Homo sapiens: one gene and its partner. The protein of the gene in region 2 interacts with the protein of the main gene of each other region in a pairwise test. Each region holds a gene or a part of one and is shown on either strand. Other genes may lie near its edges.

Region 1 (3,821 bases), on a different chromosome or scaffold from region 2:
AGAGTACAGTTTAAGAACCAATTAAGAAACTATTCTTAAACTCAAAATACACAAAATTACCTTCAGAGGAAGGGGAAAAGATACAAAATAAAAGTTTAGTTATGAGCCAAGAAATTAAATCTATCACTAAATTTACCCTGCTAATAGCATACCATCAGATTAAAGGCAAGTAACCAAAAATATTCCCAACTTTGAATTTTCAAAGTATGCAACATGGATGGCTTAATATTCATCTCTCAGCACTTAACTGCCTTGTGTGGGATGCCCTCCAATATCAAGATTCTGACATAAAGGTACTCATTAAATCATAAGCTGCAATTTGCTTTTTTAACTTTCTTATACAGACTTTTTTTTTTTAAAGGACTTATAAGGCTTTTTTATGGACTTGGCCTAGTGCCACACTCTGTATAGACACTTATAGGAAATGGATGAAATTCATTCTCAACACTGTCACCTATTACCTTTCCAAAATGTAAATTTCATTCTCCTCTCTGCTTGAAGTTCTTTATTGGCATTCCAGCGCCATCATAAAGCTTTAGCATTATAACCAAGGTCCTCCATGATATGCTTCTCTTACATTATTGATTATTCATTCACTTTACAAATATTTACTGGGCACTTACTGTGTGCCAGGCACCGTTTTGGCCTGATGATGGTGACTCGCAGCAGGAGTAATAACAGTTGTGAATTGGACTCTAGATCTATTATGATAGTAGTACCAACAGAATTTCCTGATGGACTAATTATGGGGTGTGAAAGAAAAAATAAAAATGGTTCCAAAGTTTCTGGCCTCAGCAAGTAGGATGGAGCTGCCATTAAAAGGAATTAGACTTGGCCAGACGCGGTGGCTCACGCTTGTAATCCCAGCACTTTGGGAGGCTGAGGCAGGAGGATCACGAGGTCAGGAGTTTGAGACCAGCCTGACCAACATGATGAAACCCCGACTCTACTAAAAATACAAAAATTAGCCAGGCGTGGTGTCGCGCACCTATAATCCCAGCTACGCAGGAGGCGGAGTGGGGAGGAGAATCACTTGAACCCGGGAGGCGGAGGTTGCAGTGAGCCAAGATCGTGCCACTGCACTCCAGCCGGGGCAACAGAGCGAGACTCCATCTCGGAAAAAAAAAAAAAGAATTAGACTCATTAAAACCCTATGTTACAGCAGAGCCAATATAGCAAGACCCTGTCTCTACAAAAAAATTAAAATTTTGCCAAGTGTGGTGGCACATGTCTGTATTCCCAGGTACTCTGGGGGCTTAGGTGGGAGGATCACCTAAGCCAGTAAAGTGGAAGCTGCAGTGAGCTATGATTGTGCCACTGTACTCCAGCCTGGGCAACAGAGCAAGACTCTGTCTCACAAAACAAAAACAAGCAAACAAAAAAAACCTCTGTTATACAGATATTAAAAGGGGCAAGACATCCCTAATACATCTGGTGCTCTAATAAAGTTACCTTAATCTGCACTCCCAGAATGCCAATTTAACATTATCACTGTACTCACAGTCTTGTATTTAATGGCCTATGATTTAATTCTTGTGTGTATCCTGAGGGCAAATACTATCTTCAAATCTCTAGAACCAAGAAGGGCCTGGCCTGTCTCTTTATATAGGTTTAGTTGAATGCTCTTTGAAAATAAAAAGCCATCCTTTTTTTTTTTTTTTTTTTTTTTTTTTGAGGCAGGGTCTTACTTTGTCACCCAGGCTGGAGTAGTGGCGCGATCTCGGCTCACTGCAGCCTCGACCACCCAGGTTCAAGTGATCCCCCTACCTCAGGCCCTCAAGTACCCTGGACTACAGACAAGTGCCACCACGCCTGGCTAATTTTTGTACTTTTGTAGAGACGGGGTCTCACCATGTTGCCCAGGCTGGTCTCGAACTCCTGAGCTCAAGCAATCTGCCTGCCTCAGCCTCCCAAAGTCCTAGGATTATAGGTGTGAGCCACCTTACCTGGCCAAAAAAAAAAAAAAAGCCATTTTTTAATAAGAAAAAAATCTCTACCTCCAAAAGCTGGTATGATATATTGGGGAAAAAAGTTGTCTCTGTCTCTTAGACCTGCCTCCATTTTTTTTTCTTTGAAGAAATTAGATGGTGTTTTATGCTAGCAAGGTCACTTCTCTCAGAGATGTCTAAATCTAAAAGAATGTGATATAATGGGAAAAGAAAGGTATTCATGCTTTTCTCAGTCTTCCACAGGCTTAGAAAGTTTCATAGAGGAATAATGTTTTTCAGTTTGACCATAAAAGAAGGTAGAATTTTTCTCATTCTTTTTCTCTAGGAATAATAAATAAAATAAAAGAGATGGGAGAGATAGGTACTGAACAAATCATAAAGTTAATGTACCTTTTACATAAGGAGTTTGAAATCAACCTAAAAGTAACAGAGATCTAAGACATAGACGGACAATATCAAATAAGAGAATTGGGTTACAGGGAGCTCATTCAGAAAATGAGGAAGAGAATAGGTTGGGTAGAATCAAAAGGGCTGAGGGAGCAAATGGGTAAAGTCTTTATCAAATGGATAATCAAGCTTTAAGGTTTCTGGCTTACAACAATGGTGCTGTCATTCCTGGACAAAGAATATTAAAGAACAGGATTTCATTGGGAATATTAATTGAAAATATAATTTGTTACACTTGAAGCAAATAGATTAAACTATTAGGCTTTTAGTTCTAAGTTATTTGTTCGCTAAGTGATAGCAAGAAAGAACTGCTACAACTCTAGTCAATTATGTACTAACTTAAACTGTTATCTCAGTGTTATGGTGCTCTACTTCATCTCTATTTCCAGACTATAAGGGCATATTTTCTACTTATTTTATCTCCCTTCTTAGTATTTAGTACAATGCTACTCACAGAGTACACACACTAATTCTGAATTCTATGAAGTTAAGACATCTTTCTATAGAGTCATCACCATTCTCAACTTTCTCTGCAGCTAAAATAAATTTAAAACATTATGATAATGTTTTATTAAACAGTTCATCAAAGTCAATAAAAAATCTTTAACATTTAAGTTATATGCTAACCTGGAGAGCACGTTTCATTTTGCGATATAACTTCAGACTCATCTTTTTCACCCGAAATATCCTCTTCATCAGAGAGGACCAGAAAGGCTTCTTTTGGCAAACTCTCACTACTTTCTTGTTTAGATGGTGAACCAAAAGAACTTTCCATTTTCTCTTCCAAATCTGGATTTGTCTCATCGATTGGAAGGAGAGATGTTTTAGAAAAGCAAGTAAGTTCATCCTCAGAAGGTGCAAGCTTTTCCAAAATAGGAATGATTTCATCTGTCTCCATAGAGTCTGTATTTTCTAAGATATTCTCACTTTTGTTATCTTCAATAACATTTTCATTAATCGTTTCTACAAGATCTGCAGAAGTTTCATCTTCATTCTTTTCACCTTGGTCAATTTCCATACTGCTAGATATAGCATCTTCTCCAAGAGCAAGCTCTGTGATAATATCTTCCTCTACCTTCTTTTCATTTTCAGGAGGTCGATCTGAACAAATAGTTGTATCATCTGTTTCTAGAGTTTCTTCATTAGCATCAATATTATTATCAGCTTTATTTTTCTCATCCAATGAGTCTTTACTCTGAATTTGCTCTAATTTTTCATCAGCTCCATTTTTTTCAAGAAAATCATCATCTTTATTGCTACTTGGTTCTATATTGTCAATTTCAGGAACTGGTTCACAAACTGGTACAGACTTTGGTTCAAAGGTACGATCAAAGGTTGATTCAGAAGTCAGCTCATCAGAGGCCAGTTCACCAGTGGCCAGATCATCAGAGGCCAGTTCACTAGAGGATAGATCACCAGAGGCCA
Region 2 (3,821 bases):
AAAGATAGAGATTAAAGAAAATAAAATTTTCAAGAAAAAAACCTCAAGAATCAGAGACAATGCTGGGTACAAAAGAAAACTTTAAAAATATTACTTTACAGCTGGCCACAGTGGCTCACGCCTATAATCCCAACACTTTAGGAGGCCGAGGAGAGTAGATCACTTGAGGTCAGGAGTTCGAGACCAGCCTGGCCAACATGGTGAAACCCCGTCTCTACTAAAAATACAAAAATTAGTTGGGCGTGGTGGCAGGCTCCTGTAGTCCCAGCTACTCAGGAGGCTGAGGCAGGAGAATGGCGTGAACCCGGGAGGCGGAGCTTGCAGTGAGCCGAGATAGTGCCACTGCACTCCAGCCTGGGTGACTGGAGTGAGACTCCATCTCAAAAAAAAAAAAAACAAGAATAAAAAGAAATATTCAGAGCTCTCAATTAAAAATAATAACCAAAATTAAAAATTCAATACAAGAGTTGGAAAGATCAAGATGGAAGAAATCTCTCTGAAATGAAGAGCTAAAAAAAAAAAAAAAAAAGACCAAGAGATGGAAAAAAATTAGAGGATGAGCCTGGAATATAAAATATTCTGCTGGCTGGGCACAGTGGCTCATACCTGTTAATCACAGCACTTTGGGAGGCTGAGGTGGGTAGATCACTTGGGGTCAGGAGTTCAAGACGAGCCTGGCCAGTATGGTGAAACCCCATCTCTACTAAAAATACAAAAATTAGCCAGGCATGGTGGCACGCACTTGTAGTCCCAGCTACTGAGCAGGCTGAGGCAGGAGAATCACTTGAACCCGGGAGACGGAGGTTGCAGTGAGCTGAGATCCCACCACTGCATTCCAGCCTGGGCATCACAGCGAGACTCCGTCTCAAAAAAAAAAATTCTGCTTATAGGAGAATTTCATAAATAAACCACAGAGAAAAGAGCAGAGAAATAATACTATAAAACCATTTCCTGCAACAGGATAACACATTTCTAGATTCAAAAGATCCAATGACTGTCCAGCATGATGAATTTTAAAAGATTCTCCATAGGTAGGATGACTGAAATTTCATAACATCAAGGACAAAGAAGAGAACCTAAAAACTTCCCAAAGAAAAAAGCATATATAAAGGATCAACAATCAGCAAGACACAGGACATCTAGAGCAATACCTTCAAAATGCTAACGGAAAATTATTTCCAAGCCAGAATTCCACACCCAGTCAAATCATTAATCAAGGCCAGGCATGGTGGCTCTTGAGCATAATCCCAACACTTTGGGAAGCCAAGGTGGGAGAATCGCTTCAGCCCAGGAGTTTGAGACCAACCCAGCAACACAGTGAGACATTCTCAACAAAAAAATAAGAAGTTAGCTGCACATAGTGGTGCACGCCTGTAGTCCCACCTACTCGGGAGACTGAGGTAGGAAGATCGCTTGAGCCCAGAAGGTAGAAGCACAGTAAGCCATGAATGATCATGTCACTGCACTCCAGCCTGGGCGACAGAGTAGGATTCGGTCTTCAACTGGCAGGGGAGGAAATTCCCAGAAAGGCAGCTGTGCAGAAGGACTGGGGAGGAAAAAAAAAAAAAAAAACAGTCCAGACTGGAGCAGGACCGAGTACTACAGGGGAGGAAAAAAAGTAACTGACAAATTTCCTACAAGTTTTTGACTCACTGGTGGATTGAAGAGTTTTACAAGGCAGCAAAAGTCTTCTATGATCAAAAGTCAAAAGATTACATGTAAATCAATAGCAATTTTACCATATCCACAAAGATAAAATACTATTTTTTTTTTTTGAGACGGAGTCTCACTCTGTCACCCAGGCTGGAGGGCAGTGGCGCGATCTCAGCTCTCTGCAACCTCCACCTCCCAGGTTCATGCCATTCTCCTGCCTCAGCCTCCCGAATAGCTGGGACTACAGGCAACCGCCACCACACCCAGGTAATTTTTTTGTATTTTTAGTAGAGACAGGGTTTCACCGTGTCAGCCAGGATGGTCTCGATCTCCTGACCTCATGATCCACTTGCCTTGGCATCCCAAAGTGCTGGAATTACAGGTGTGAGCCACCACACCCAGCCAAAATACTATTTTAAAAAGTGCCAAAAAAAGGTGAAAATAGTTGTCTATAGTTTAAAAAGGGGGTGGACAAGAGATTGATATATTTTTTTTTATTCTAAGGTTTAAAGCACTATTTGGTTGTTTTTTTTGTTTGTTTGTTTTGAGACAGAGTTTCGCTCTTGTTGCCCAGGCTGGAGTATAGTGGCGCGATCTTGGCTCACTGCACCCATCGCCTTCCAGGTTCAAGCGATTCTCCTGCCTCAGCCTCCCAAGTAGCTGGGATTACAGGCGCCCACCACCACGCACAGCTGATTTTTGTACTTTTAGTACAGACGGGATTTTACCACGTTGGTCAGGCTGGTCTCAAACTCCTGACCTCAGGGGATCCACCCGCCTCAGCCTCCAAAAGTGCTGGCCTCCAAAAGCTTGAGCCACCACGCTCAGCCTATTTGGTCTTTCAATCTATGTACATGTATTATTTTGATAAATGTAAACATGTAAACAATAACCTGAATTATCTTCAACTATACCAAAACAAAAAAACCAACCTAAATTAATCTACCTATTTGAACCTTCCAACAGTGCTCTGCTTTCGTTTTTAAATTGGGGAGAGAAATTTAGAGAGTATCTTTAGAAACCAAAAATCATGAAGTATGATTTTGATCACATTTTGTTTTGTTTTTGTAGAGACGAGGTTTCACTATGTTGCCCAAGCTGGTCTCGAACTCCTGGGCTCAAGGGATTCTTCCATCTCAGCCTCCCAAAGTTCTGGGATTACAGGTATGAGCCACTGCAGTCAGCCTATCATATGCTTTTGAAATTTCACAGAACCCAGTGTTTGGGTATAAGCTTTAGAGTTAAAAGACCTATGTTCAGATCCTGACTCAATCGGACAAGTCACGTTTCCAAGCCTGATCTATAAAACGAAAATTCCCACCACCTACTTGACAGGATGTTCGGAAAATTGGGTGAAATAATATGTAAGTAGTTGGCATGGTGCCTCACAGTTACTAGAACTCGATAAATGGTAGCTGCTTTGACAGCAATTATTACTATTTACTACTATTATTACTATTACTTATTTTCCCCCTTACCAAAATTTGCCGAAAATATTCTAGAACAAGCTTGTCCAACTCATGGCCCCAGCCCAGGTCAGCTTTGAATGCAGCCCAACACAAATTTGTAAACTTTCTTAAAACGTTATGAGATTTTTTTGCAATTTTATTTTTTAGTGCATCAGCTATCATTAGGGTTAGTGTATTTTATGTATGGCCTTCTTCCAATGTGGCCCAAGAAAGTCTAAAGATTGGACAGCCCTGTTCTAAGAACAAGGACATCAAGCTGCTTCTCAAATGGCTCAGAAGACTTCTGTTTGATTGCCTTAGCATGCTGAATTTCACACCACTCCATAACTTAATTCAACATTTCACTATTTATATCCTGGAGCAAAACTGAATGCATAAACTAAAACTCATCAGATAAACACTAAGCCCTAGCTGTTGGTCTCTAGAGAATAAAACACCAGCAAACTAGCTGCAAAAGAACATTATTTTTATGCCAATAAAACCTATGCAAAGCTTTAAAATGTAAGCCATATTCAACAATTTAAATTATTTTAAATTTGAATTTGTATCTCTTTGAAAGCATTGAATCGAAACAGACAACAGATGGACAAAAAATACTGCCTTTGGAATCTGACAGTTCTAAGCCTGAAGCCTACTTTGCCTTCTACTCACTAGTATGACCTTCAGCAAAATTCTAAACCTCTCTAAGCCTCAGTTTTC

Evidence for each region.
Region 1: the proteins of PLEKHB2 (region 2) and ATF7IP interact in a two-hybrid assay, tested with the Homo sapiens proteins (one large-scale study listed by IntAct).

The regions. Positions count from the first base shown.
Region 1 is NC_000012.12:14,424,676-14,428,496, reverse strand, and holds part of ATF7IP (activating transcription factor 7-interacting protein 1), read right to left. Parts: coding exon 3,024-3,821; intron 1-3,023. UniProt on the Homo sapiens protein: Recruiter that couples transcriptional factors to general transcription apparatus and thereby modulates transcription regulation and chromatin formation. Can both act as an activator or a repressor depending on the context.
Region 2 is NC_000002.12:131,108,069-131,111,889, reverse strand, and holds part of PLEKHB2 (pleckstrin homology domain-containing family B member 2), read right to left. Parts: intron 1-3,821. UniProt on the Homo sapiens protein: Involved in retrograde transport of recycling endosomes.